Regions from separate parts of the Homo sapiens genome. Here regions 1 and 3 are each linked to region 2. The links come from fine-mapping of genetic effects on gene expression. A gene starts in region 2. Each other region holds a variant in brackets. All regions are shown on one strand. Distances are between the middles of the regions.

Region 1 (9,591 bases), 22 kb before region 2:
AGGGAGTACTGGGTTGGGACTGAGAAGGCACAAGAGGAGTAGTCATCTCTGCTCCCAAGTGGCAGGTCTGAGGCTCATAGGCACTGGCTGGGGTGATGCCTACTCCACCCACAGTTGATGGCAGCAGCCACACTGAGGGACCTAGCTCAGGTAAATGCTGTGTATTACAGGCTTCACCCCAGGTAGAGTAATACAGGTAGAGGAACCAATAGGTGCAAAGGCTTGGAGGTGCATCTGAGCCATGAACATTTCAGAACCTGGTAACCATGTTGTGTCATGATCACATAAGTCCAGAAGTTTAAGACAGGCTTGGGCAACATAGTGAGACCCCGTCTCTCAAAAAAAAAAAAAGGCCCTAGTAAAAACTGAAGATGAGCCAGAGTCACACCTGTATTGGTTGTCTTAGGGGTTGTGCCTTCAATCTGAGTGTCCTGGGATGTATGGAGATTTGTGAACAGAAGAGGGTCATGTCCTTGGTAGAACTTTAAAAGTTTACAAAAGCCTCTCAGAGAACAGACTGGAATAAGGATGATGAGGACAATGAGGCACTGAGAAGTGGAGTCTTCTTTCTAGGCCATAGGTGGTAAGAAGGAGCACTGAGGATTGAAATCAGTTAATTAGTTAGCCCCAGGGCCCCTGGCTTTACGGTTGTGTAGGGATCAATGGAGGTTTGATCAGCTGGAGCTGGTCACAGTTGCCTTATTTTCATGGGTTCTGAACACTGAAAATGCTTATGGTGCCAACACAGGGAAAGAGAAAGTGTCCCAGTCTCTCCCTGAACCTGACACTACCTGTGTGGTGTCTGAGATTATGGTGTCTTGAGTGTTCACTTGATGTTTTCCCAGTTCTTGGCGTGGAGAACCTGTGGATACACCAAGCTCAGAGTCCTGAGTACCAGCCAAGGATTAATAGAAGTGTTCTTATTTCTGGCAACCAATGGAAACAGGTGTAGAAAGCTATTTTAGGAATTCATACCATTTTGTGCAAATGCTTTGAGGTGTGACTGAGCTGGGACCTATGTACGACAGGCATCTATTCTTTCTCATAGGAACAAGAAGCCGGGTCAAGATTCAGGCCTGTAATGTGGTTGCCTGAAAAGCTGGGCATCTGTTTTGGAGATGCTGGGATGCTTGGATGGGGAAAGAGGTGGTCTAATCCAGATGTTCATAGGATCTATCTGGTTGCACACTGGAGGAGAACAGACTCCTGGATTAATGAGGAGGCAGTTAGCACGGAGGGAAGTTTACCAGCATAATTCAGATGAGTTGATGGACCAGGTGAATGCCGTGCAGATGGGAGAAAAGGAGACATTCTACCTATATTTTTAATAAAGGAACAAGTAGATCTTTGCATGTTGTAGGTGAGGGAGAGAGAGAGAAGGGTCAATGATGTGACCCCTGGTTTTTTTTTGTTTTTTTTTTTTGAGACGGAGTTTTGCTCTTGTTGCTGAGGCTGGAGTACAGTTGTGCCATCTCAGCTCACTGCAAATTCTGTCTCCCAGGTTCAGGTGATTCTCCTGCCTCAGCCTCCCGAGTAGCTGGGATTAGCCCGCCACCATGCCTGGCTAATTTTTGTATTTTTAGTAGAGATGGGGTTTCACCATGTTGGTCAGGCTGGTCTTGAACTCCTGATCTCAGGTGATCTACCCACCTCGACCTCCCAAAGTGCTAGGATTATAGGCGTGAGCCACTGGCCCAACCATATTTTATTTCTTAATGAAAACGGAAATAGGCAAAATACATTTGAGAAGAAGAAAATGAGTTGCCAGACATAGTGCTTTGAGAGGGTGAGGTGAGAGGATTGCTTGAGCCTAGGAGTTTAAGGCCAGCCTGAGCAACATAATGAGATCCTGTCTCTACAAAAAAATTTAAAAATTCGGTGGGTGTGCTGGCATGTGCCTGTAGTCCCAGTTACTCAGGAGGCTGGGGTGGGAGGACGCTTGAGCCCAGGAGGTTGAGGTTGCAGTGAGCTATGATCAAACTACTGCCCTCTTGGCTGGGTGACAGAGCAAGATCTTTTCTCTAAAAATAAATAAGAATTTAAAAAGCAAGCAAAATATATAAATAGACATTTTACTAAAGAAGGAACATCCACTTATAAAAAAGGGTAAAAATTTAAAAGACTATCCATATTCTCTGCTGGGCACGGTGGCTCACACCTGTAATCCCAGAACATTGGGAGGTTGAGGCGGGCAGATCACAATGTCAAGAGATTGAGACCATCCTAGCTAACAGGGTGAAACCCCATTTCTATTAAAAATACAAAAAATTGGCCGGGTGTGGTGGCCCACGCCTGTAATCCTAGCACTTTGGGAGGCTGAGGTAGGTGGATCACGAGATCAAGATCCTCCTGGCTAACATGGTGAAACCCTGTCTCTAATAAAAATACAAAAAAATTAGCCGGGCGTGGTGGCATGCATCTGTAGTCCCAGCTACTAGGGAGGCTGAGACAGAAGAATTGCTCAAACTCAGGAGGCGGAGGTTGCAGTGAGCCGAGATCACGCCACTGCACTCTATCCTGGGCGACAGAGAGAGGCTTTGTCTCAAAAAAAAAAAAAGACTATCCATATTCTGTATCGATAAAAACATGAAAGTGGAATTCATGGACACTGGTGACAGTAACACTAAAGGGAACAACCATATTAATTTTACAGTACACTTTGGTGTTGCCTAAAAAGCTATACATTTGCTGGATGCAGTGGCTCATGCCTATAATCCCAGCACTTTGGGAGGCTGAGGTAGGTAGATCACGAGGTCAGGAGTTCAAGACCAGCGTGGCCAAGATGGTGAAACCTCACCTCTACTAAAAATACAAAAAAATTAGCTGGGCATGGTGGCATGTGCCTGTAGTCCCAGCTACTTCGGAGGGTGAGCCAGGAAAATTGCTTGAACCCACGAGGCAGAGGTTGCAGTGAGCCGAGATTGCATCACTGCACTCCAGCCTGAGTGACAGAGCGAGACTCCATCTCAAAACAGACAAACAAACAAAAAGCTATAGATTTACCTATTCTGATTCAGTTATTGAACCCCCAGATAGTAACACATAAAAAAGAAACATATTTACATAAAGAACTGTACTAAAGTGTCTGTAGTTTTATTTATGGAAGCCAAAAATGAGAAATAGATTAATGATGTATAAACAGATGAATGAATATACAGTGATATTTCATAGCATGTCATCTCAGCAATATAAAAAGGAGTGAACTACTCAAGTATCATCACTGACAAATCTCAAAATAAATATACCGCACGATACCATCCAGGGATAAAGATTAAACACTTCACGACATCAAATCACGTATAAAAATGTAGAAAATGTAAAATAATCTATTATAAAGCAAAGTTATCAATGGTCATCTGGAAGGCAGAGGTAAAGACGTTACCAGACTCCAGGTAAATATGAAGGTGATGGATCATATTACAGGCTTATTAATGTCAAAACTTATCACACTTTACAGTTTAAATATGTGCAGTTTTGGCCAGGCACGGGGGCTCATGCCTGTAATCCCAGCACTTTGGGAGGCCGAGGCAGGCGGATCACATGGCCAGGAGATCGAGACCATCCTGGCTAACACGGTGAAACCCTGTCTCTACTAAAAATAGAAAAATTAGCCGGGCGTGGCTGTGGGCGCCTATAGTCCCAGCTACTCAGGAGGCTGAGGCAGGAGAATGGCATGAACCCAGGAGGCGGAGCTTGCAGTGAGCTGAGATTGTGCTACTGCACTCCAGCCTGGGCGACAGAGCCAGACTCTGTCTCAAATAAATAAATAAATATAAATAAAAATAAATATGTGCAGTTTTTTTGAAAGTCATTTATTTTGGCCAGGCATGGTGGCTAATGCCTGTAATCCCAGGACTTTGGGAGGCCGAGGTGGGCGGATCACCTGAGGCCAGGAGTTTGAGAACAGCCTGGCCAACATGGTGAAACCTCACCTCTACTAAAAATACAAAAAATAGCTGGGCATGGTGGCAGGTGCCTGTAATCCCAGCTACTCGGGAGGCTAAGGCAGGGGAATCGCTTGAACCTGGGAGGCAGAGGTTGCAGTGACCCAAGATCGTGCCACTGAATTCCAGCCTGGGCAACAAGAGCGAGACTCCATCTCAAAGAAAAAAAAAAGTGATTTATTTCTTATTACAGCTTTAAAAATGTAATTTTAAAAATCTGGACTTGATTTTTCCAAGAGGTTTATTAACTATTGCTGTATCATCTCCTCAACCTGAGTGAGGCAACTAGCCTTCATGGTAACAAAAACATGACGAACAATAAAGACCATTTCCAGATGATTCAGAAAGAATGACGGCTGGTCACATGATGGGCCACGTAGTGGTCTAATGGACATCCCTGCTCCCTTTCTTCTTCCTCCTGCCTATGCAGGAATGACCTTTAGGTCAATTAGACTAGAAGGACTACCACAAATAACAAAATCTTTAGGTTATTCTCTCCAGCAGTGACCTTAGCCACATAAGATTCAATTAAGAAGGTCCTGAGAATTTCTGTTTGTATTCATCCTTCACAGCCATGTCTGGATCATAGTAGAAGCCCTTTTAAAATGCAGTAATTCCGAAAAACTTATCATTTCCACTATAACCTCACAACCTGTGAAGGTACCCTCAACAGCACTGAAACATAATGCACCATCCCTTGTGAAGTAGAGAACAATTTCATGTTGCTCTCAGAAGCACCAGAGATTGTGATGAAAACTGCCACCCTTTCAGGTTGACCTATGAACCCCAAAATTATGGTATTTTTGAGATAGTTTCGCTCTTGTTGCTCATCCTGGTATGGGGTGGCATTACCTGAGCTCACTGCAGCCTCCACCTCCCAGGTTAAAGTGATTCTTGTGCCTCAGCCTCCCAAGTAGCTGGGATTATAGGCGAATGCCACGATGCCTGGCTAATTTTGTATTTTTAGTAGAGATGGGGTTTCAGCATGTTGGCCAGGCTGGTCTGGAACTCCTGACCTCAACTGACCCTTCTGCCTCGGCCTCCCAAAGTGCTGGTATCACAGGCATGAGCCACCATGCCCATCTGCAAATCCAGTGTTCAAACAATTCCACACTGTAAATACAGCTCTCAAGATTGAAGGTGTCTTAAGCAGCAGAGTCTTTATTATAATACAAACAAGGGAAATAGGCGGCAGGCAGGCTGTCTGATTTGTGACTGGCAGGCTGGAAAATTCTATCTTAAGAATGCTGTGAGGGCCGGGCACGGTGGCTCACGCCTATAATCCCAGCATTTTGGGAGGCTGAGGCAGGTGGATCACGAGGTCAGGAGATCGAGACCATCCTGGCTAACACAGTGAAACCCCATCTCTACTGAAAATACAAAAAAAAAAAAAAAAAAAAAATTAGCCGGGCGTGGTGGCGGGCACCTGTAGTCCCAGCTACTTGGGAGGCTGAGGCAGGAGAATGGTGTGAACCCGGGAGGTGGAGCTTGCAGTGAGCCGAGATTGCGCCACTGCACTCCAGTATGGGTGACAGAGCGGGACTCCATCTTAAAAAAAAAAAAAAAGAATCCTGTGAGATCCAAGAGATCCCTGAAAAAGGTAGTCCATCTTTTCAAATCACCAGAAGAGTTCTCTGCACCAAAAATTAGTCAGGTCCTTGGCCTACCTCATCAGACACAAAGAATTGAGAATGGAATGAGTACTGAGGATACTAAAAAATCCCCCTGGTGAATGAAAGAAAAAGTTACGTCTGGATCATAATGAGGTAGGGGAGTGATGAAACTGTGAGTACCTGCCAAGTGGTAAAGGTGAAATGCTTTTTGCAAGATAACTGGCAGTCACATAAGTCTGGCAAGGGACACAGGCAGGCTGAAAAATGCAATGGGGGCGGGGCGCGGCGGCTCATGCCTGTAATCCCAGCACTTTGGGAGGCCGAGGCGGGCGGATCACGAGGTCAGGAGATCGAGACCATCCTGGTGAACACGGTGAAATCCCGTCTCTACTAAAAATACAAAAAATTAGCCGGGCGTGGTGGCGGGCGCCTGTAGTCCCAGCTACTCGGGAGGCTGAGGCAGGAGAATGGCATGAACCCGGGAGGCAGAGCTTGCAGTGAGCCGAGACTGCGCCACTGCACTCCAGCCTGGGCGACAGAGCGAGACTCCGTCTCAAAAAAAGAAGTCTTAGATCTGCACAGTCACCCAGAAAGGCAGAAGACAACCAAGGTGGGATGCATTAGGGTGACTTTAAGACTCCTGACCCTAACTCTTTCCCTGGGAGCCTGCAACAAAGCAGACTGGGGCTG[C/T]TCAAGGAAAGGAGAGGGCAGTACATGTATCTCAGTACTACCAACCACAGAACTGATCCAGAGAATTGGAGAATGAAGCTGTGCCACAGTCCTGATGTGAGAAAGACGTTATTACCAAGAGGAATAAAGGGGAGGGGCAGAGACTAACTCAGGTCACAGTTAAGTATGAGTACCTTACCCAGGGAGGATATAAGTGTCAAGGTCTCCAGCATCACATCATGGTACAGGCATCCCTGAGCCTCATTAAGAAGACTCCATTCCTCCAGGGAAAAGTTTACAGCCACGTCTTCAAAGGTCACACTGCTCTGTTATGATGGGGATAGATGAAACCATAAATGGCCCCTGTGCTGAAGACCCACAATCCACTTCCCCAACATATCTACCCTTGCCCATCCTCCTTCTCCCAGGATCCCCAACTCAGAGGAGAAACTTTGCCCACTAGTGCCACTGTGTCCTCATGGGACCACTGATCATGACACATAGCCATCAGCAACAAGAGGCAGATAAACAAATAGATATCTATGCTGTGATCCTGAAATAAGGGGTTCCATCCCCTCCTTTCTAGCAATTCCCCTGGTATAGCAAAGGTCACATGAATCCCAATGCAGTGCCTAAGAACCTTCAAACATAATCCCTGTGTACCTATACATCCTTCCCATCTTTGGACACCAAAGACACATGTCAATTGCCACCAACACCTAACTCCCCCACACCATAGACCTCTCTCTGGCCTTGCCAGAAGTTAAAGTATTTTATTCCCCCTTTCTTCTACTGATAAGGGTAGGAGTCTTACCCTAGGGTTATAGTGATGGCCAAACACACAACACCTGATGCTGAACATAAGTCATCAAGAAAGTTAATTAATCAAATATGCTCACAACTTGAGAGAAGAGGACACCACTCACCACAGATAGCCACATGGGGGTTGCACTATGCATAAGAGAGAGCAACCAGGGACTGTGGTATGTAAGCTTTTCTGAATCAAGAAGGTGTGATAGCCCCTGATTCCCTTGAAAGGATGCAACTGGCTTGTTTTTAATTTTTGAGACAGGGTCTCGCTCTGTCACTCCTGCTGGAGCGTAGTGGTGCAATTACAGCTCACTGCAGCCTGAACTTTCCAGGTTTCAGGGATCCTCCTACCTCAGCCTCCCGAGTGGCTGGGACCATAGGTGTGCGACACCACACCCAGCTGTAACTGGCTTGTTTGAATTAACTCTGTGTGTAGAAATGAAATTCAAACTTGCTACAAATAAATAATAAACAGGAACTCTGCTTAGTCCTCTTGATTAAAAGGGTAGTTAGGCTAGGACACATTATACAAAAGAGCAGAGTGGGAAGGGGGATTTGTACTCAGACCATTTGAGGTAATACTAGTATCACCAGATATGAAGGTAGCACATGATATTGACCTTAAATTTAGGGCTCACACCATAATGTGGCTGACATCATCCACAGTAGTCTTGGTGAATTAAAAAGCAATCCAAAATTATCACAGAATTCCAATGGTTCCTAATAGCAGTGGTAGTACCAAGTCATTATACGAAGCCCTCCATGCATAAATCCACAGGAAAAAAGAACGTTAGTGTTTTCAGGTATTCATGGCCCTATTCCACTTCTGTGCTGCATTTGTTATCTTCAGAAATTATGACTTTCTTCTGTCCACCTAACTCCATTCAAAGCCTAGACCCATTGGCCGTCAATCTCGGGCCTAGTGACTCTCACAAGGTGACCTTATTTGCCTCCATATCCACCAGGCTGAATGAAACACCCCAGGCCCCACAAAAGTCATCTCAATATCGTGGTGTGGCCACAGAGTGGCGAATTAGCACAAGGTCCAGGCTGAGTGTCATCTTCCCTCAGCTACTCCTATGCTTCTGCTTGCATCTCATGTCTATTCATTCCTTGGAAGCCTATGTCACCTGCCAAACTAGGCTACCAGATATATTCTCCCTTCATGGCCATTTACCTCCCTCACCTGTTTTCTGAAGTACAATACCATCACCAGGTACACAAGCAGGCAACCCAACCTCCACTTCCTGTCTTCCTAGTAGTGTCACCACCATAATCTGAAGGTTGCCCCTTCCAAATGTGATCCATGACTCACTCATCTTGCTCCACACAGTGGCTACCATATATTGGATAGCTCCAATATTAACCCTTCCCCAGATATTTGCATCCATGGGTTTAGGTGCCCATTTGATAGCTCCACTAAGTATTATCTATTACATTTCAGAATCTTAACATGGCTGTGGTATTGTGAAATATATATTTGGTCATCTCCTTTCCTGGCATGGAACTCCTAAAATTCATGAAACTCTCAAATTTATAAGTGACTTTGAATGGTAATGAGTTGAATGATGGTTGGTAACCCCTAGATAACTTCAGGATGGAGACTGGTCAGGGAAAAGACTGTCAGGATTTGAGCATCTGGACTAGGGCAGTAGCTTCCAGTTTGATCTTCCTCCTCCCTCAACCCCACAGTCTGTTGTCCACTCTGTAACCAGACAGAACCTGTTAAAACACTGGTAACATCATTTAACCCCCTCCAGTTTCACTTTCTTTTTTTTTTCGCGATGGATTCTCACTTTGTTGCTCAGGCTCGAGTGCAGATTGGCACAATCTTGGCTCATTGCAGCCTCCATCTCCCAGGTTCAAGGGAGTCTTACACCTCAGCCTGCGAGTAGCTGAGATTCCAGGCACCCGCCACCATGCCCAGCTGATTTTTGTATTTTTAGTAGAGACTGGGTTTTACCATGTTGGCCAGACTGGTCTAGATCTCCTGACCTCAAGCGATCCACCCGCCTTGACCTCCCAAAGTGCTGGGATTACAGGCGAGAGCCACCACGCCCGGCCTCTCCAGTTTCACTTCTAAGCCATTTCCACATCCCAGTATCATTCCTGGGTTAATCCACCACATGTGTTTCCCACCGGTCGACAGACATGAAAACACTTCTCCATAGCCTGTGTCAGTGACTTAGGTTTGGGGTTTGAGGATTTTGCAAGATCCCCAGATCGAAGGACAGGAGAAATTGCACTTAAGAGTCCTAGGAGGCCTGGCCAGACCAGCGGCTCACGCCTGTAATCCCAGCACTTTAGGAGGCCAAGGCGGGAGGATTGCTTGAGCCCAGGAGTTTTCGACCATCTTAGGCAACATGGCAAAACCCCGTCTCTATTAAAAACACAAACATTAGCCAGTTTCTCGGGAGACTGAGATGGGAGGATCACCTGAGCCTGGGGAGGTCAAGACTATGCTGAGCCATGATCGCGTCACTGCACTCCAACCTGGGTACCAAGAGTGACACTCTGTCGCTAAATAAATAAATTCCCAGGACATTAAGATCTAG
Region 2 (10,234 bases):
AAGAAACTGAAACCTGCTACAAATAAATAATAACCAGGAACTCTGTCTAGTCCTCTTGATTAAAAGGGTAGTTAAGCTAGGACACATTATCCCAAAGAGCAGAGTGGGGAGGGAGATTTGCACTCAGACCATGTGAGGTAGTACTGGTATCACCAGACATGAAGGTAGCACATGATACTGACCTTAACTTTAGGGCTTACACCATAATGTGGCTGACATCATCCACAGTAGTCTTGGTAAATTAAAAAGGAATCCAAAATTACCACAGAATTCCAATGTTTCTCAATAGCAATGGTAGCCCCAAATCATTCTGACGCCCTCCATGCATAAATCCACAGACAAAAAGAACCACTAGCATTTTCAGATATTTATGGTTCTATTCCACTTCTGTGCTGCATTTGCTATCCTCAGAAACTATGACTTTTTATTTATTTATTTATTTATTTATTTATTTATTTATTTATTTATATTTTTGAGATGGAGTTTCACTCTTGTTGCCCAGGCTGGAGTGCAATGGCGCGATCTCAGCTCACCGCAACCTCCACCTCCCAGGTTCAAGTGATTCTCCTGCCTCAGCCTCCCGAGTAGCTGGGATTAGAGGCATTAGCCACCACGCCTGGCTAATTTTATATTTTTTAGTAGAGACGGGGTTTCTCCATGTTGGTCAGGCTGGTCTCCAACTCCCGACCTCAAGTGATCCGCCCACCTCAGCCTCCGAAAGTGCTGGGATTACAGGTGTGAGCCACCGCGCCCGGCTGACTTTTTTTTTTTTTTTTTTTTTGAGACGGAGTTTCACTCTTGTCACCCAGGCTAGAGTGCAATGACACAATCTCGGTTCACTGCAACCTCTGCCTCCCAGGTTCAAGCGATTCTCCTGTCTCAGCCCCCGAATATCTGGGATTACAGGTGCCTGCCACCACGTCAGCTACTTTTTTTGTATTTTTAGTAGAGATGGGCTTTCATCATGTTGGCGACGCTGATCTCGAACCCCCGGCCTCACGTGATCTGCCCACCTTGGCCTCCCACAGTGCTGGGATCACAGGTGTGAGCCACTATGCCCGGCAACTATGACTTTCTTCTGTCCACCTAACCCCATTCAAAGCCCAGAACCACTGGTCATCAATCTCATGCATAGTGACTCTCACAAGGTGACCATATTTGCCTCCACATCCACCAGGCTGAATCAAACACCCCAGGCCACACTAAAGTCATCTCAAAATCTTGGTGAGGCCACAAAGTGGCCAATAAACACAAGCTCCAGCCTGAGTGTCATCTTCCCTCAGCTACTCCTATGCGTCAGCATGCATCTCAAGTCTATTCATTTCTTGGAAGCATTATGTCACTTGCCAAACTAGTCTGTCAGATGTATCCTCCCTTTCCAGCCTAGCCAAGATGGTGAAACCCTGTCTGTACTAAAAATACAAAAATTAGCCAGGCATGGTGGCAGGCACCTATAATCCCAGCTACTCGGGAGGCTGAGGCAGAAGAATCACTTGAACCCAGGAGGCGGAGGTTGCAGTGAGCCGAGATTGCACCACGGCACTCTAGTCTGGGCGACAAAGCAAAACTCTGTCTCAAAAAAAAAAAAAAAAAAAGAAGAAGAAGAAACAGATGTATCCTCCCTTCATGGCCATTTACCTCCCTTACCTGTGTTTCTCAAATCCAATACCATCACCAGGTACACAAGCAGGAAACCCAAACTCTACTTCCTGTCCAACAGTGTCATCAACATAATCTGAAGGTTGTGCCTTCCAAATGTGAGCCATGACTCAATCATTTCAGTCCACACAGTAGTTACCATATATTAGATACCTCCAATATCAACGCTTCCCCAGATATTTGCATCTATGTGTCCAGCTGCCCATTTAATAGCTCCACTAAGTAGTATCTAATACATTTCAGAATCTTAATATGGGTGTGATATTGTGAAATATATATTTGGTCATCTCCTTTTCTGGCATGCAACTCCTAAAATTCATGAAATTCTCAAATTTATAAGTGACTTTGAATGGCAATGAGTTGACTGATGGTTGGAAACCCCTAGATAACTTCAGAATGGAGACCGGTCAGGGAAAAGAGACTATGTCAGGATTCGAGGTCTGGAAATTTCAGCCCCATACCCCAATCTCCAGAAAGGGGAGAGGGGGCCAAAAGTTAAGCTGATCAGCATTGACCAATGATTTAATTAATCATGCCTATGTAATAAAGCCTCCATAAAACCCCATAAAGACAGGGTCTGGGGAGCTTCCAAATAGCCAAACACATGGAAGTTCCTGGATGGTGGTGTGCCTGAAGATCATAAAAGCTCTGGGTCGCTTCCCCTTATGCATCTCTTCATCTGTAACCTTTGTAATAAATACTCTTTAAAATAAACTGGCAAATTAAAGCATCTCCTGAGGTTCTGTGACTGGCTCTAGCAATTTAATGGAAGCCGAGGAAGGGGTCATGGGAACCTGATTTTTATCAAGTCAGTCAAAGGACAGGTAAAAAAAAAAAAACATCCTGGGGCTTGTGATTGGCATCGAAAGGGGTTGGCGGACAGTCCCGTGGGACTGAGACTTCACCCTGTGGGATCTGATGTCCACTGCAGAACTACTTGGTGTATGAGGAAAACCATCCACACATTATCTAGTCACAGAAGTACTCTGTGTTGATTGTTGTGGGGGAGAGCAGAGCAAAAGCAATTTGTATTTTTTTCCACGCAGAATGGCCAAAACAAACCTCCTGATAGCCTCAGTGAATATTACACCTGCTATCAACTTGCTCATCTCAGTTGATGCAGCTCCCATTGCTACAGCTGCTAAGATAAAAAACCCAGGGGTGTTTCCTGAATCCTCTCAAGCTCTCACTGTTCACATTTAAAAATTGAGTTGCCAGGCTGGGCACGGTGGCTCAAGCCTGTAATCCCAGCACTTTGGGAGGCCAAGGCGGGTGGATCACGAGGTCAGGAGTTCGAGGCAGCCTGGATAATATGGCGAAACCTAGTCTCTACTAAAAATACAAAAATTAGCTGGGTGTGGAGGCGCGCGCCTGTAATCCCAGCTACTTCGGAGGCTGAGGCAGGAGAATCGCTTGAACTCAGGAGGCGGAGGTTGCAGTGAGCCAAGATTCCACTATTGCACTCCAGCCTGGGCAACAGGTCCAGACTCCATCTTGGGAAAAAAAAAATTGACTTGCCCCTCTAAAAAACACAAATCCAGATCTAGCCACATTGCCTAAGCCACAACTCTAGTCCATTAATCCTCACCTCGACTAGGGCAGTAGCTTCCAGTTTGATCTTCCTCCTCCCTCAACCCCACAGTCTGTTGCCCACTCAGTAACCAGACAGCGCCTATTAAGAAATTGGTAACATCACCTCACCCCTCTAGTTTCACTTCTAAGTAAGTATTTGCACACCCCAGTATCAGTTCCTGGGTGAACCCTCCACATGTGTTACATTAGTTGACAGACATAGCAACAACTCCCCATAACCTATGTCACTGATGTAGGTTTGGGGTTTGAGGTTTTTCCAAGATCCCCAGATTGAAGGACCGGAGAAATGGCACTTAAGTGTCCTAGGAGGTGCGGTAGTTCCTGCTTGGCATCCCAGCACTTTGGGAAGCCGAAGCAAGAGGACTGCTTGAGCCCAAGGGTTCGAGACTAGCCTGGGCAACATGGCGAAACCCCATCTCTCTCTCTCTCTTTTTTTTTTTTTTTTCAGACGGAGTCTTTCTCTGTCGCCCAGGCTGGAGTGCAGTGGCGCGATCTCGGCTCACTGCAACCTCTGCCTCCCGGGTTCAAGCGATTCTCCTGCCTCAGCCTCCCAAGTAGTTGGGACTACAGGTGTGTGCCACCAGGCCTGGCTAATTTTTTGTATTTTTAGTAGAGGGGGGATTTCACCGTGTTAGCCAGGATGGTCTCAAACTCCTGACCTCGTGATCCGCCCGCCTCGGCCTCCCAAAGTGCTAGGATTACAGGCGTGAGCCACCGCGCCCGGCCGTGAAACCCCACCTCTACTAAAAATACAAAAAGCCAGTTACTCGGGAGACTGAGATGAGAGGCTCTCCTGAGCCCGGAGAGGTCGAGGCCGTGCTGCGCCGTGATCGCGTCACCGCAACCCAGCCTGGGTGTTGAGTGAGAACCCGTCGCCGAAAAAAAAAAAAGATGCCAAGATCTAGACATGTGGGATAGGATGAGGACCAGTGAAGGACTAGAGCATCCCCTACTTCCTACTGTGGATTCTGTAAGTGCTTCTGTAGCCATGAGGTGTGCCAAAAGGCAGGGCTTTCACAAATGTGTCTGTGCTCGGATTTGATAGACTCAGGCTTCTCTGTAAGCTTTTTTTGGCCCTGCAGCCAGATGACTTCAGACTGAGTCTCTAATCTTGTGGCCCAGTGCTCAATGTCACCTCTCAATGATTCAACCTCTCAATGTCCTCATCACTGCCTTCAACTCTGTTCTTCCTTCGAACATCTTTTGGGAATCGCAACTCTAACACAGATTTCCTCCTTTGTTCAAAACTGTCCATGGCTTTTAGCGTCCTCACAGTCAAAGTTCAACCCTCAGCCTGGTACTGAAGAAACAACTCCGCCTCGGCCAGGCGCGGTGGCTCACGCCTGTATTCCCAGCACTTTGGGAGGCCGAGGTGGGCGGATCACCTAAGGTCAGGAGTTCGAGGCCAGCCTAGCCAACATGGTGAAACCCCGTGGTGGCGCATGCCTGTAATCCCAGCTACTCGGGAGGCTGAGGCAGGAGAATCGCTTGAACCGGGGAGGTGGAGCTTGCAGTGAGCCGAGATCGCGCCACTGCACTCCAGCCTGGGCGACAGAGTGAGACTCCGTCTCAAAAAAAAAAAAAAAAAGAAATAACTCCGTATCACACTTCTTTCCCAGTAGACACACGATGTCCCCGTGTTCCGCATCCTCCTGCCTCAGTCGCGCCTGCAGGCCTTTGCCCTCCGCCAGTCTCGCTCTGCCGACCGCATCAACTGGGTGTCGGAAACAGGGATCCCACCCGCCGGCGCCTCTCCGTCCCTGACAGAGGCCTGGGCTGCAGGGACGCGAGGAGGCGGCCCTCACGATCAGGGGCCTCAGGGTCTGGGTGGGTAGGGTGGGTAAGGCCCGGAGGTCGCAGCGCTCACCTGAGCAGGCGCCCTCAGAGCGGCTGCTGCCGCCATGACTCTGGGCGGGGGGGGAACGCGGGCTCGGCGGTGTTCCTGTCGTTGTCCTGTCCCGGGTCGCGACCAGCGGCGTCGCCGAACCTCAGATCCGCCTGTGTGCAATGGCCACAACCACTCCTCCCGAGCTCGTCCAGACCCAGCATCGCCGGATGGACCTGACAGGCCAAAATGGCTGCCACGGCTAGGACGCCGGAAGTCCTGGCTTGACTTTACGTGCCCCGGCAATGGCACGGCTTCTCTGAAGCTTCATTGGCTCAGCCACGTTACCATTTCGCAGGGCGGATTCTGGGTAATGTAGTTCCCAGACATGGGCAGCGCTTAAGGTGGCTTTCTTCCGACTTTCCGAAGAAAGGGGCAAGCTCCACTGCGAGGGGCGCTAGGAAATGGCGACTCCAGGTCCAGATGCGGAGGAGGGTCTCCCATCTTAGAAGAGGCCATACGCACATTTCTGGGGGTACTGTGTGCAACTGATTGCCCGCGTGTTTGGAGACTTCTTATTTCAGAATTTGTGATGCTCGGCTTCTTCCTTTTTTTTTTTTTTTTGTCTTTTTTTTAAGACATAGTTCTCTCTGTCACTCAGGCTGGGGTGCAGTGGTGTGATCTTGGCTCACTGCAGCCTATGCCTCCCGGGTTCAAGCGATTCTCGTGCCTCAACCATCCGAGTAGCTGGGATTACAGGCGTGTGCCACCATACCCTGCTAATTTTTGTATTTTTAGTAGAGACGGGGTTTCCTCATTTTGGCCAGGCTGGTCTCGAACTTCTGGCCTCAAGTGATCTGCCTGCAATGGTCTACCGAAGTGCTAGGATTACAGGCGTGAACCACCGTTCTCAGCCCATTAGCAACACTTTTATTTATATCTTTAACCTACAGATTCCTCTAGAAATCTGATATCAACATCAAAAAGCTAATGAGACAAATGCTATTATGTTACAGGACAATGGCTGCGGTGTTCAAACATGGAGTATGTATGCATGAGAGAAGAGAGAGACCCTCTCACATTGTTTTATATTCAGTAAAAACAACAAGGAAGTAAAACCAAAGACAGGCAACCCCGCGCCAGGCCCGAAACCAGGCCTAGGCCCGCCTGGCCTAAACCCAGTAGTTAAAAATCAACTTATGATTTAGAAGCCGATGTTATTCATAGATTCCTTAGATTGTATAGAAGAACATTGTGAAACTCCCTGCCCTGTTCTGTTCCTCCCTGACCACCGGTGCATGCAGCCCCTGTCACATACCCCTTGCTTGCTCAAATCAATCACGACCCTTTCATGTGAAATCTTTAGTGTTGTGAGCCCTTAAAAGGGACAGAAATTGTGCACTCCGGGAGCTCAGATTTTGAGACAGTAGCTGGCCAATGCTCCCAGCTGAATAAAGCCCTTCCTTCTGCAACTCGGTGTCTGAGAGGTTTTGTCTGCGGCTCGTCCTGCTACATGCACAGGGTGCTTTTACACTGAGATATTTCAAGTGCCTTAAATCCATGCGTTCACCTCTTTGCTGGCAAGTGCTTATCATTGTCAGTGGCATTGGAATCAGAGTGACTCCATCTTGAAAATGGGCTGGATAAAGTAAGGCTGAGAAATACTCGGCTGCATTCCCAGGTTAGGCATTCTTAGTCACAGGATGAGATAGGAGGTTGGCACAAGATGCAGGTCACAAAGACCCTGCTGATAAAACAGGATGCAGTAAAGAAGCTGGCTAAAACGCACCAAAACCAAGATGGTGATGAAAGTGACCTGTGGTCATCCTCACTGCTCATTATACGCTAATTATAATGCATTAGCATACTAACTCCCGCCAGCGCCATGACAGTATACCAATGCCCTGGCAATGTTTGGAAGTTACCCTATATAGTCTAAAAAGGGGAGGGAACCTCAGTTCTGGGAAATCTCCACCTCTTTTTTTTTTTTTTTTTTTGAGATGGAGTCTCGCTCTGTCACCCAGGCTGGAGTGCATTGCTGCGATCTCGGCTCACTGCAACCTCCGCCTCTTGGCCAAGTTCAAGTGATTTTCCTGTCTCAGCCCCCCGAGCAGCTGGGATTATAGGCGCCTGCCACCGCGCCCAACCTGTAAAATTTTCTATACTTAAAAAAAAAGTTGGCTGGGCGCGGTGGCTCACACCTGTAATCCCAGCACTTTGGGAGGCCGAGGCGGGCGGATCACGAGGTCAGGAGATCGAGACCATCCTGGCTAATATGATGAAACCCCGTCTCTACTAAAAATACAAAAAAATTAGCTGGGCGTGGTGGCAGGCGCCTGTAGTCCCAGCTACTCCGGAGCCTGAGGCAGGAGAATGGCTTGAACCCGGGAGGCGGAGGTTGCAGTGAGCCGAGATCACGCCACTGCACTCCAGGCTGGGGGACAGAGCGAGACTCCGTCTCAAACAAACAAACAAACAAACAAACAAAAAAGTTGGCCGGGTGCGGTGGCTCATGCCTGTAATCCCAGGACTTTGGGAGGCAGAGGTGGGCGGATCACGAGGTCAGGAATTCGAGACCAGCCTCACCAACATAGTGAAACCCCGTCTCTACTGAAAATAGAAAAATTAGCTGGGTGTGGTGGCGCATGCCTGTAATCCCAGCTACTCAGGAGGCTGAGGCAGGAGAATCACTTGAACCCAGGAGGCGGAGGCTGCAGTGAGCCAAGATCGCGCCACTGCACTCCAGCCGGGGTGACAGAGGACAGAGTGAGGCTCCGTTTCAAAAAAAAAAAAAAAAAAAAGCTTTCTTGGATTATGCTTTGTATAAATTAAATTGGATATTTAGTGTAAACTTTATTCAGTAATGGAGGTGAGGGTTTCCAGTAGTATTTCTTTCCCCAAACAATCATTTTCTCAGATTTCCCGTGAGTTGGCTCATAAACATGTTGTACCATAAGAAATTGAAATCTCAAAGGCAAGATGGGTCTCCTGTTGGGTCCACACCAAAATTTGTAAATGGGGGAAAAGCATTACCGCTTTGTTAGCCATATCTACTTTTTCTTATCTGAAGCCTCTTTTTGAATCCCTTGGAGTTCCTGTTCAATGGCACTTATTTTGAATGTAGTGACTTTTATAGTTTCATGTGATATTGGTGTCAAGAGAGTCTTTTTGCTGCTGCATCTGCGAAATAATTTTTTTTTACTCTTTGGAGAGGTGAGTTTGAATGTTCAGGAACGTTAATAAAACATTCTTTTTTGATAATCGGATGGCTTCTAAATGATCAGAAACTTGAGAGCCATGTTTAATTAGATATCTGGGGGAGGTTAAGTAACCTCACTGGCCAGGCACAGTGGCTCATGCCTGTAATCCTAGCACTTTGGGGGACAGTGGGGGGGTGGGGGGTGGGGGGGCGGATCATGAGGTCAGGAGTTCGAGACCAGCCTGACCAACATGGTGAAAACCTGTCTCTACTAAAAATACAAAAATTGGCCAGGCATGGTGGCTCATGCCTTTAATCCCAGCACTTTGGGAGGCCGAGGTGGGCAGATCATGAGGTCGGGAGATAGAGACCACGGTGAAACCCCGTCTGTACTAAAAATACAAAAAATTAGCTGGGCGCCGTGGCGGGTGCCTGTAGTCCCAGCTACTCGGGAGGCTGAGGCAGGAGAATGGCGTGAACCCGGGAGGCGGAGCTTGCAGTGAGCCGAGTTTGCGCCACTGCACTCCAGCCAGAGCGAGACTCCATCTAAAAAATAAATAAATAAATAAATTAGCCGGGGGTGGTGGCGAGCGCCTGTAATCCCAGCTACTCGGGAGGCTGAGGCAGGAGAATTGCTTGAACCCGGGAGGAGGAGGTTGCAGTGAGCCAAGATTGCACCACTACACTCCAGCCTGGGCAACAGAGCAAGCCTCTGTATCAAAAAAAAAAAGCCTGATTCCATAACATCCCAAGGTCATGAGCTACACCAATAGCATAATACCTTTAAGTATAAATATTATCCATTTGATTTTTGGCCAGTTGACAAACTGGTGAGTGCTGTTAATTCAGCTAGCTGTGCTGATTTTACTTGAGGCAAGTGATGGCTTTTTTTTTTTTTTGCTTTTTTTTTTGAGACAGAGTCTCCCTCTGTTGCCCAGGCTGGAGTGCAGTGGCGCAGTCTAGGCTCACTGCAACCTCTGCCTCCCAGGTTCAAGCGATTCTCCTGCCTCAGCCTCCCAAGTAACTGGGACTACAGGCGCCTGCCACCACACCCGGCTAATGTTTGTATTTTTAGTAGAGACGGGGTTTCACCATATTGGCCAGGCTGGTCTTGAACTCCTGAACTTGTGATCCGCCCGCCTCAGCCTCCCAAAGTGCTGGGATTACAGGCATGAGCCACCGCACCCGGTGGGATTGCTCTTTCTGATGTCCACAAGAGACACAAGGTTGTAGCCTGCTCAGTATTTTCAAAATGTATCCTTTAGATCCGATCCATCTGTGAACCAGATAATATCAACATTTTTACATGATGTGTCCTATAAATCCTGTCTGGACACCAATTCTGTGAGTAGAATACAGTGATGAAATATTTCATCTGTTGTTTCAGGAAGTTGCACTGCAGGATTAAGAGTATTACAGATAGAGAGGGCAGCATATGAAGCAGACAGTGTAAGTTTGTCATAAGAAACCAATCTATTAATGGAAAATTGCTGTGTATTATGTGAATTCAAAAGAGCTTCTATAGAATGAGGAGCCTCCATTACAATTTTCTGAGTAATCGTAAGGAGCATGGCAGTGGCAAAAATGGCCCTCAGACAAAGAGGTCACCCATGTACTACATGGTCTAATTGCTGACTATAATAACCAATAGCCCTACATTGTCCTCCAGGTTTTTCAATTAGAACACCCAGGGAACTGCCATGCCTTACATGAACAAAAAATCGCAAAAAACAAAGAAAGGAAAAACAGCAGCTAATAATTTGCATGGGCCAAAGCGGGGGCTTGTAAGATTTTTCTTTATTTATTATTTGTCCTTCTGATGTCCAGTGTATGAGGTTAGGCTGATCTTTCTACAATGCATATAAAGTCTGTGGCATTAGAGAAAAATTGGACATCCAGCTATGACAGTAGTCAGCCAAGCCTAAAATCCTGTTGTCTTTTTTTTGTTTGTTTGTTTA
Region 3 (11,188 bases), 55 kb before region 2:
GGCCCAGGGGTGGGTCACGCTTGGCGCCGTCACAGAGCTCCAGAGTCGCCTCTGTGCAGCAGAGGACAACTGTTCTCCGCCTTCTGGGTTCAGTCACCGCAGTGCCGACCTAGCGCTCAGGAGCCTCTCCGACAAATAAACCCAACACCAATCAAAATGGCCGCCACCAGAGGGCGCCGGAAGTCCGGACCCATTGTCACGTGCACACAGGAAATGCCTTTATTCTGAGCCCCCATGGCTCTTCCACTCTGTCATTCCATGCGGAGTTTTCTGGGTAATGTAGTTCCCTAGGTAACAAGGAGGGTAAAGGGCACAATTCCCAGAGGCGGTTCTGCAGGAAAAGCCCAGCTCCACCTCAGGAGTATCCTTAAGATATGCGCCCTGACTGGTATGGTGGCTAGCTCCTGTAATTCCACCAGTTTGGGAGGCCAAGTCAGAAGGATCATTTGAGGCCAAGAGTTAGAGATTAGCCTGAGCAACAAAGCAAAATCCTGTTTGAAGGGGGCCTGCCCCTCCATACCTATGGGTATCTCTCATCAGGTGGAGACGAGAGACTGAGAAAAGAAATTAGACACAGAGAAAAAGTATAGAGAAAGAATAGTGGGCCCAGGGGACTGGCACATTCAGCATGTGAGGACCTTCACCGGCGCCGGTCTCTGAGTTCCCTCAGTATTTATTGATCATTATTTTTACTCTCTTGGTGAGGGGAGTGTGGCAGGGCAACAGGGTGATGGTGGGGAGAAGGTCAGCAGGGAAACACGTGAGCAAAGGAATCTGTATCATGAATAAGTTCAATGAAAGGTACTGTGCGTGGATGTGCACATAGGCCAGATTTATGTTTCACTTTAAACAAACATCTCAGTGTAGCAAAGAGCAACAGAGCAGTATTGCTGCCAGCATATCTCGCTTCTAGCCACAGGGTAGTTTTCTCCTATTTCAGAATACAACGAATGGGAATGGTTGGCTTTACACCATGACATTCCATTCCCAGGAATGAGCAGGAGACAGAAGCCTTACTCTTATCTCAACTGCAAAGAGGCCTCCCTCTTTCACTCCTCCTCCTCAGCACAGACCCTTTAAGGGTGTCCGGCTGGGGGATGTAAGGTCTTTCCTTTCCCATGAGGCCATATCTCAGGCTGTCTCAGTGGGGGAAACCTTGGACAATACCCAGGCTTTCTCAGGCAGAGGTCCCTGCAGCTTTCCGCAGTGCATTGTGTCCCTGGTTAATAGAGAATGGAGAATGGCGATGACTTTTACCAAGCATACTGCCTGCAAACATATTGTTAACAAGGCACATGCTGCACAGCCCTAAATCCATTAAACCTTGATTCAATACAGTACGTTTCTGTGAGCACAGGGTTGGGGCTAAAGTTACAGATTAACAGCATCTCAAAGCAGAACAATTTTTCTTAATACAGATCAAAATGGAGTTTCTTATGGCTTCCTTTTCTACATAGACACAGTAACAATCTGATTTCTTTTCCCCATATCCTGTCTCTGCAAAAAATAAAAAATATTAGTGGGGTGAGGTCAGGCAGGCCAGTGGTCCCAGCTGCCCCAAGGTTGGGGTTAGGGTTAGGGAGCCTGAAGGAGGGAGAATCGCTTGAGCTCAGGAGTTTGAAGCTGCGGTAAGCCGAGATCGTGCCACTGCACTCCAGCCTGGGCAACAGAGCAAGACCTCTTCTCTAAAAAATAAAAATAAGGGCTGGGTGTGGGTGGCTCACGCCTGTAATCCCAGCACTTTGGGAGGCTGAGGCGGGTGGATCACCTGAGGTCAGGAGTTCAAGTCCAGTCTGGCCAACATGGTGAAACCCCGCCTCTACTAAAAATACAAAAATTAGCTTGGCATGATGGCATATGCATATAATCCCAGCTACTCAGGAGGCTGAGGCAGGAGAATCTCCTGAACCCAGGAGTCAGAGGTTGCGGTGAGCTGAGATTGTGCCACTGCACTCTAGCCTGGGCGACAGAGCAAGACTCTGTATTGGAAAAAAATAAAATTAAATAAATAAATAAATAAAAGATTGCAGATCTTTCTACTGGGCAGAGGATCATCCTGCCTTTCCTTAAAACTCCTATTGAGATTTCTTGCAATTATTAGCTGTAGCTGATTACCCTAGTGTATGGAAAAATATTATTTCAGAGTTAGTGTAGGTGCTCCCAAAGGCTATAGATCTAAATTCACCTATCATTTCAAGTGGTCCTTTGATGCAAAATTCTTCCACTGGAAGCAGAGATTAATGCAAAGGTTAATAACCATTATTGTATTGTTAAAATGAATGTGTAAACACCCAGCGGGTTCATTTTGCCCACTGCCCAGATAGAGCCAATTTATCAGGACAGGAGAATTGTAAAAGAAAGAGTTTGATTCACACAGAGTTGGATGAACAGCAGACTGGAGTCTTATTAATATTACTCAAATCAGTCTTCCTGAAAACTTGGAGACTGGGTTTTTTTGTTGTTGTTTATTTGTTTGTTTGTTTTTTTGAGATGGAGTTTTGCTCCTGTTGCCCAGGCTGGAGTGCAAGGTCATGATCTCGGTTCACTGCAACCTCCACCTCATGAGACTGGGGTTTTTTAAGGATAATTTGGTAGATAGGGGGCCATGAAGTGGGCAGTCCTGATTGGTTGGGTTGGAGATGAAATCGTAGGTATAGCAGGACAAGCTGCAGACTAAACCCCTCAGACACCGAGTTAAAGAAGGAAGGGCTTTATTCAGCTGGGAGCTTCGGCAAGACTCACATCTCCAACAACTGAGCTCCCCAGGTGAGCAATTCTCGTACCTTTTACGGGCTCACAACTCTAAGGGGGTCTGTGTGAGAGGGTCGTGATCGATTGAGCAAGCAGGGGGTACATGACTGGGGGCTGCATGCACTGGTAATTAGAACGGAACAGAACAGGACAGGGATTTTCACAATGCTTTTCTATATAATGTTTGTAATCTGTATAACATTACTGATTAGGTCAGGGGTCGATTTTTCTTTTTTTTGATTTGAGTCTTGCTCTGTCGCCCAGGCTGGAGTGCAGTGGCATGATCTCGGCTCACTGCAAGCTCCACCTCCTGGGTTCACGCCATTCTCCTGCCTCACCCTCCCGAGTAGCTGGGACTACAGGTGCCCGCCACCACGCCCGGCTAATTTTTTGTATTTTTAGTAGAGACAGGGTTTCACCATGTTAGTCAGGATGGTCTCGATCTCCTGACCTCGTGATCCGCCCGCCTCGCCCTCCCAAAGTGCTGGGATTACAGGTGTGAGCCACCGCGCCTGGCCAAAAAAAAAAAAAAAGTCCGGGCCCAGTGGCTCACGCCTGTAACCCCAGCACTCTGGGCAGAGGTGAGGGGATCACGAGGTTAAGAGCTACAGACTATCCTGGCCAACATGGTGAAACCCCGTCTCTACTAAAAATACAAAAATTAGCTGGGCATGAATCCCAGCTACTGGGGAGGCTGAGGCAGGAGAATCGCTTGAATCCGGGAGGCAGAGGTTGCTGTGAGCCAAGATCGTGCCACTGCACTCCAGCCTGGGTGACAAAGAGAGGCTCTGTATCAAAAAATAAATAAATAAATAAATAAATAAAAGCCAAGGGTCTAGCCAGAGCTGTGGAACCGCCGCCAGGTCGCTGTTGGTCCACACCGCCCGTCGCGCTACCCGCCCACCCAGCATCGGCCGCCGCCATGGGAGTGCAGGTGGAAACCATCTCCCCAGGAGAGGAGTGCACCTTCCCGAGGCACGGCCAGACCTGCGTGGTGCACTACACCGGGATGCTTGAAGATGGAAAGAAATTTGATTCCTCCCGGGACAGAAACAAGCCCCTTAATTTTTAGCAGGAGGTGATCCGAGGCTGGGAAGAAAGGGTTGCTTAGATGAGTGTGGGTCAGACAGCCCAACTGACTATATCTCCAGATTCTGCCTACGGTGCCACTGGGCACCCAGGCATCATCCCACCACACGCCACTCTCGTCTTCGATGTGGAGCTCCTAAAACTGGAATGAAGGGAATGGCCTTCTCCCTCAGCTCCCTGTTCTTGGATCTGCCATGGAGGGATCTGGTGCCTCCAGACGCGTGCGCATGAATCCATATGAAGCTTTTCCTGAGGTTCCACTACACTCTGTATAGACATCTGCCCTGACTGAATGTGTTCTGTCACTCAGCTTTGCTTCCGACACCTTCCATTTCCTCTTCCCCCTTCTCCTTGTGTGTGTGTTTACCTAAACTATATGCCATAAACCTCAAGTTACTCATTTTATTTTGTTTTCATTTTGGGGTGAAGATTCAGTTTCAGTCTTTTGCATCTAGGTTTCCAATTAAGTACATGGTCAAGTATCAACAGCACAAGTGATAGATTCACTTTAGAATAGGAATTGGTGTTGGGGGGGTGTTGCAAGAATATTTTAATTTTTTCGATGAAATTTTTATCTATTAGATACTAAACATTCTTTCTGCTGCGCTGCAAAGTCATAGCAGATATGAGGTGCTGTTGAGGGATTAATTATTGTCCAAGTTGAGAGATGTCCTTCAGTTAAATTAAAATCCCTACCTAAAACCAAGGTGGTGATGGGGAGAGCCTTTGCTTCCACCAGTTCCCCCCCTTCCCTCGCTTTAAGCCCCTGCCTTTGAAAGTAGATCATGTTCACTGAGATGCTGGACACTGCAGGTATCTCTCCCTGGGCCAGCAGGGACCTCTGAAGCTTTGTTGCCTGGCTTATTTTTTTTTCCATCCTGTGGTTTTTCTAATGGACTTTCCGGAATTTTGTAATCTCATAACTTTCCAAGCTCCATCATTTCCTAAATCTTAAGAACTTTAACTGACAGTTTAAATTGAAGATGCTGTTTGTAGACTTCACACCCAATGAAAGCCCAGCCATTGCCGGGCACGGTGGCTCACGCCTGTAATCTCAGCACTTTGGGAAGCCAAGGTGGGTGGATCACCTGAGGTTGGGCGTTCGTGACTAGCCTGATCAACATGGAGAAACCTGGTCTCTACTAAAAATACAAAATTAGCCGGGCATGATTGTGCATGCCTGTAATCCCAGCTACTCGGGAGGCTGAGGCAGAATTGCTTGAACTGGGAGGCAGAGGTTGTGGTGGGCCGAGATCGTGCCATTGATTGCACTCCAGCCTGGGCAACAGGAGCGAAACTCCATCTCAAATTAAAAAAAAAAAAAAAAAAAAAGGAAGCCAAGCCATAAAAAGATTCCTCGAATATTCTCTGAAGAAAATGATGCTGGGGGCCGGACACACTGGCTCATGCCTGTAATCCCAGCACTTTGGGAGGCCTAGGCAGGTGGATCACCTGAGGTCAGGAGTTCAAGACCAGCCTGACCAACACGGTGAAACCCTGTCTCTACTAAAAATATTAAAAAGTAGCCAGGTGTGGTGGCAGGCACCTGTAATCCCAGCTACTCCGGAGGCTGAGGCAGGATAATCACTGGAACCCGGGAGGCGGAGGTTGCAGTGAGCTGAGACTTCACCATTGCACTCCAGATGGGGCAATGAGAGCGAAACTCCATCTCACACTTGATCTTAGCCAAAAGGTGGAGAAGCGTTGAACCAAAGCCACTGTGCCCGGGTGGGAAAGTTCTTTATAGATTTATAGTGCTTCTTTATAGATTAGTTCTTGCTAAGTGTTGAAAAGAGAATTGTAATTATCTAAAGAGGATTAATTCATCACTTAGGAAAAGCAGAGGTTAGTAAGAGGAAGTTACTTCTTTTAGAGTATGTGATTCAAAGGAAAAAATGTGATACATCAAATATACATGAACTGGCTAAACATTTCTAGGTACATATCGATTTATAAGCCACTGTAAGATTCAACACAATGAGGAAATTACTGGTGTAATAAAAATAACTGAGAGAGTGAAGGGGTGGCCTGCCCCTCCACACCTGTGGGCATTTCTCATCAGGTGGGATGAGAGGCTGAGAAAAGAAATAAGAGACAGAGACAAAGTATAGAGAAAGAAAAGTGGGCCCAGGGGACCGGGGCTCAGTATACGGAGGAACCCTGATGGCACTGGTCTCTGAGTTCCCTCGGTATTTATTG[A/G]TCATTATCTCTACCATCTCGGAGAGGGGGATGTGGCAGGACAACAGGGTAATAGAGGCAAGAGGGTCAGCAGGAAAACCTGTGAACAAATGTCTCTGCATCATAAACAAGGTAAAGAAAAAAGTGCTGTGCTTTTGATGTGCAGATACATAAACATCTCAATGCATTAAAGAGCAGTATTGCCTCCAGCATGTCTCACCTCCAGCCCTAAGGCGGTTTTCTCCTATCTCAGTAGATGGAATATACAATTGGGTTTTACACTGAGACATTCTGTTGCCCAGGGATGAGCAGGAGACAGGTGCCTTCCCTTATCTCAACTGCAAAGAGGCCTTCCTCTTTCACTAATCCTCCTCAGCACAGACCCTTTACAGGTGTCAGGCTGGGGGAACAGTAAGATCTTTCCTTTCCCATGAGGCCACATCTCAGGCTGTCTCAGTTGGGGGAGACCTTGGACAATACCCAGGCTTTCTCAGGCAGAGGTCCCTGCGGCCTTCCGCAGTGCATTGTGTCCCTGGGTACCCGAGACTGGAGAATGGCGATGACTTTTACCAAGCATACTGCCTGCAAACACATGTTTACAAAGGCACATCCTGCACAGCCCTAACTCCATTAAACCTTGAGTCAATACAGCACATTTCTGTGAGCACAGGGTTGGGGCTAGGGTTACAGATTAACAGCATCTCAAGGCAGAATAATTTTTCTTAGTACAGGTCAAAATGGAGTTTCTTATGTCTTCCTTTTTCTACATAGACACAGTAACAGTCTGATCTCTCTTTCTTTCCCCCAGAGGAACCCTGCCTCATTGCCTTGATAAAAAGGGTTGTTAGGCTAGGATACATTATTCAAGAGAGCAGAGTGGGAATGAGATGAGATTTGTGCTCACACCTTTTAAGGTTGTCCCACTATCACAAGATGTCAAAGTGACACATCATATTGGGCCTTCAATTCTGGCCTTATACCAAAATGTGGATAAACATCCAGACTATGCTTGACAAATACAAATAGCATCCAATATTAACACAGAATTTCCATGGTTTACAATAGCAGTGGTAATCCCAAATCATCCTGTGAATGTCTCCCGGAATGACTCCATAGCCACACAGAACCACATATGGCTTTAGATATCCATGGCCCTATTCCACTTCTGTGCTGCACCAGCTGAGACCTCAGCTGTAGCAACCCTCCTCTGTCCACCTAATGCCGTTTAAAGCCCAGCCCCTGGATTTGTGAACCAAACCACATCTACTATCACAGATGAGCATATTTTTCACTGCCCATATGCACCAGGCTGAATGAAACTCCCCAGGCACTCCCAAAGTCATCTCAAAACGTTTGTGAGTCCAGACAGTGATAAATAGTTACAACTTTGGCACCAACTCAGGCCTAAGTGTCATCTTCCCTGAATTACTCCTATGCTTCTGCATGCATCTATCTCGTCTATTCTCTCCTCGGATGTCTATGTCCCCTTCCAAACTCTACTGTCTGATACATCCTGCCATGATGGTCACTCACACCCTCTCAGGTGTTTAGGAAGCCCAATAACATCACTCAGGGACGTAAGTAAGAGATCCACTCCTCAGCCTGTAGTCACACCTTCCTGGCCCCTGAAAAGATTTACCACCAAAATCTGAAGCATGTCCTCCTAAATGGACCCATAACTAACTTACTGTAGTTCGCTCATTAGCTTTCATATATTGGATGTCTCCATTATCAACACCCTCCCAGATATCCCATCCTGTATGTCTAGTTATCCATTTGATGCCACCACTTATTGGTCTCTGATTCTTCATATGGCCAAAACAACCCTCTTGCTATCCACAGTGAATATTGTTGTCAATACCAACTTCATGTCAGCAGATGCAGCGTCCATGGTTACAGCTGCAAAGATCAAAAACCTTGGGCTCATGCCCAATTCCTCTTTCATGCTCTTATCACCCACATTAGAAAACCTAGCTGTCGGCCGGGCACGGTGGCTCACACCTGTAATCCCAGCACTTTGGGAGGCTGAGGCGTGCGGATCACCTGAGGTCGGGAGTTCAAGACCAGCCTAACCAACATGGAGAAACCCCATCTCTACTAAAAATACAAAATTAGCCAGGGTGGTGGTGCATGCCTGTAATCCCAGCTACTGGGGAGGCTGAGGCAGGAGAATCACTTGAACCTGGGTGACGGAAGTTGCGGTGAGCTGAGATCACGCCATTGCACTCCAGCCTGGGCAACAAAAGCAAACTCCGTCTCAAAAAAAAAAAAAAAAGAGAGAGAGAGAAAACCTAGCTGTCTGCCAGGTACGGTGTCTCATGCCTGTAATCCCAGCACTTTGGGAGGCCGAGGCAGGTGAATCACCTGAGGTCAGGAGTTCGAGACCAGCCTGGCCGACATGGTGAAACCTCGTCTCTACTAAAAATACAAAAATTAGCCAAGTGTGGTGGTTCATGCCTGGAATCCCAACTGCTCGGAAGGCTGAGGCAAGAGAATCACTTGAACCCGGGAGGCGGAGGTTCCAGTGAGCAGAGATCATGCCATTGCACTCCAGCCTGGGTGACAAGACCGAAACTGCGTCTCAAAAAAAAAGAAAGAAAGAAAGAAAGAAAACCTAGCTGTCTTTTTACAAAAAGTGAATCCTGAATCCAGACCCATGTGATTTACCACATATCTGATCCATTAAGCCTCACCTAGATTATGGCAGGAGCCTTATCTCTGACCTTTCTTCCTCTTCCCTCAACCCACAGTCTATGCAACAAGGTCCAACCAGATGAAGCCTGTAGCCAGGTAGAACTGTGGTAATATCACCTCCTGACTTTGATCCGTTTTATCTCTAAGCATTTCACAACCTGGTAGCAAATCCTGGGTTAATCTTACAAGGGTGTTTACATTGGTTGACAGAAATGGGAATACCTCCATATAACCTGTCATGGACTTGGTATCCTGGCTTCAGAGATTCTCCAGGGTCCTCGGATCAAAGGACTGAAAAAAATGGCACTTAAGAGTCCCAGGACACCACAAGCTAGAGAACCTGTAGATGGCGTCAGGACCAATGAGGGGATTGAACACCCTCCACTTTCCTGTGTGGGTTCCCTAAGTGCTTCTGCAGCCAGGAGTGCCTGAGGGGAGAGGCAGACATTACAAACATGTCACGGGATTTGATAAGCTCAGGCCTCCCTGAACCCTTTCTTGTCCCTGGAGCCAGGTGGCACTCAGGCTGGTTGTCTGACCTGCTTGTCTCAGTGCAAAATGTCATCTCTACCACCTATGTGAGCTACAAAAAGGATTCAACCTCCCAAGGCCCCAAAGTCCTCATCCTCTCTCTCTACAATGTTCTTCCTTTGATTGGCCTTTGGGAAATCTTAAAAGCCTGGATTTGGATCATGTCCCTCCTTTCTTCAAAACTCTCCATGGCTTCTAGTGTCCTCATGATGAATGCACAGCCCTCAGCCTGTGTGCTCTTCCAGGAGTAGCTCTGCCTCAAACTTTGTTCCCGACAGGTGCCTGTGGACCCCAGGTTCCATCCTCCCAGCTGCCTCCATCTCCAGACCATCGCCTAGGCCCCTCCCTGTGCCTGTTGCTCTCCCCACCGCATCGCACTGATGTCAAACACAGGTGAAACCGTCTTTGCAAAATTATAACTGAGGAAATTATGACAGTGAAAGAAATCAGACCTAACCGACTCCATCTTGCTTTTAACCTTTAAGCTGTCCTTGTTCATTCCTGGGCACAGGCTGAATTAACTTAGGGAAGGAATTCAGTTCATGGTTTCACTCTGAAACAAAATTGATAACAGCCCTTTCCTGAAAAGACTCCCTTCTTGCCTGGGGACCAGCCTGCCTTTGCAGGACTAACAGTTTAGCTATAAGATTAGAAATTACCGTTTAGGGGTCATGTAGCTTCTGGCTCCAAGAGTCTGAACCTCGCCAAGTTGCTCCTGAAGATAACATAACAATTGTAAAAGCTAAGATCAGTGCTTGAGGTATTTTGGAGATCCTACACTGGATGGATCAGCTGACAACACACAGACCGGTAATCTGGGTCAATCAGTTCTGCCATCCCACCCACAACAGAAAACAGCATGAAAAACTCACTTCAACCCTCTATAAATCCATCTCCAACCTGACCGTTCAGCACTCCCCACTTCCCAAGCCCCTACCCGCCAAATTAACTTTGAAAACTCTGATCCAGAAATGCTCGGGGAGACTGATTTGAATAATAATAAAACTCCTGTCTCCCGAACAGCCGGCTCTGCGTGAATTACTATTTCTCCTTACAATTCCCCTGTCTTCACAAATCGGCTCTCTCTAGGCAGCTGGCAAGGTGAATCCACTGGACGTTTACACAGGGACCCCTCCTGCCAGCGCCTCAGTGTCCCTACGCCGGGTACCGGCTACAGACCCGTGAGCAGGAGCCTCTCCCTCGCTGGTTTAGGACCTGGGTGACGATGAGGTGACCTGAGGGCACAGAAAACGCCACAATTACCTGAGTAGGGCGCCTCGGCGCAGCCGCAGCCATCGGACTACTTGGGGAAAGCACTGCCCGGGAGCAGCAGGCGCCCTCACCGGGCTGCAGAGCCGCCTCTGTGCACCGAGAACGGTTCCTCTCCACCTTCTGGGTTCATTCACCGCAGTCCCACGTAGCAGTCCGGGGCCACTCACTGGGCAAACACGCGTATCGCAGATCAACGTGGCCGCTACAAGAGGACCCCGGAAGTCTCGGCCCTACATTAGGCGCACACACGGAAATGCTTCTTTCCGAGCCCTCATTGGCTCTGACGGCATTCATTCAACGCAGAGCTTTCTGAGTAATGTAGTTGACCAGGTTTCAAGGCTGTAAAGAGGGCGCTACCCAGAGGTGCATCTGCAGGAAAAGCCCACCGTCATGTCAGGAACTCTCCTTAAAAGCGCGCCCTGAGGCCGGGCGCGGTGGCTCACGCCAGTAATCCCAGCACTTTTGGAGGCTGAGGCGGGCGGATCGCGAGGTCAGGAGATCGAGACCATCCTGGCTAACACGGTGAAACCCCGTGTCTACTAAAAATTCAAAAAAAAAAAGTTAGCTGGGCGTGGTGGCGGGCGCCTATAGTCACAGCTACTCTGGAGGCTGAGGCTGGAGGAGAATGGCGTGAACCTCCTTGCAGTGAGCTGGGATCGCGCCACTGCCCTCC

Evidence for each region.
Region 1: its variant is fine-mapped to the expression of ZNF586 in whole blood (INTERVAL, PIP above 0.99).
Region 3: its variant is fine-mapped to the expression of ZNF586 in whole blood (TOPMed, PIP above 0.99).

Annotation. Positions count from the first base shown.
Region 1 is chr19:57,787,235-57,796,825 of GRCh38, reverse strand. No RefSeq gene overlaps it. Among named protein-coding and RNA genes, the nearest start is that of ZNF586, 22 kb to the right of the region's middle. RefSeq lists a silencer at 7,284-7,430. The variant C/T (reference allele first, on the strand shown) is at 6,248.
Region 2 is chr19:57,764,764-57,774,997 of GRCh38, reverse strand. ZNF586 (zinc finger protein 586) reads right to left here and starts at 5,322. Exons shown (of 3, transcript NM_017652.4): 1 at 5,120-5,322. The coding sequence starts at 5,155. RefSeq lists enhancers at 5,088-5,337, 5,059-5,598.
Region 3 is chr19:57,819,264-57,830,451 of GRCh38, reverse strand. It overlaps ZNF587B (zinc finger protein 587B), which reads right to left and starts at 153. Exons shown (of 3, transcript NM_001376223.1): 1 at 1-153. It also overlaps the pseudogene FKBP1AP1. RefSeq lists enhancers at 7,787-8,287, 10,543-10,772. The variant A/G (reference allele first, on the strand shown) is at 6,040.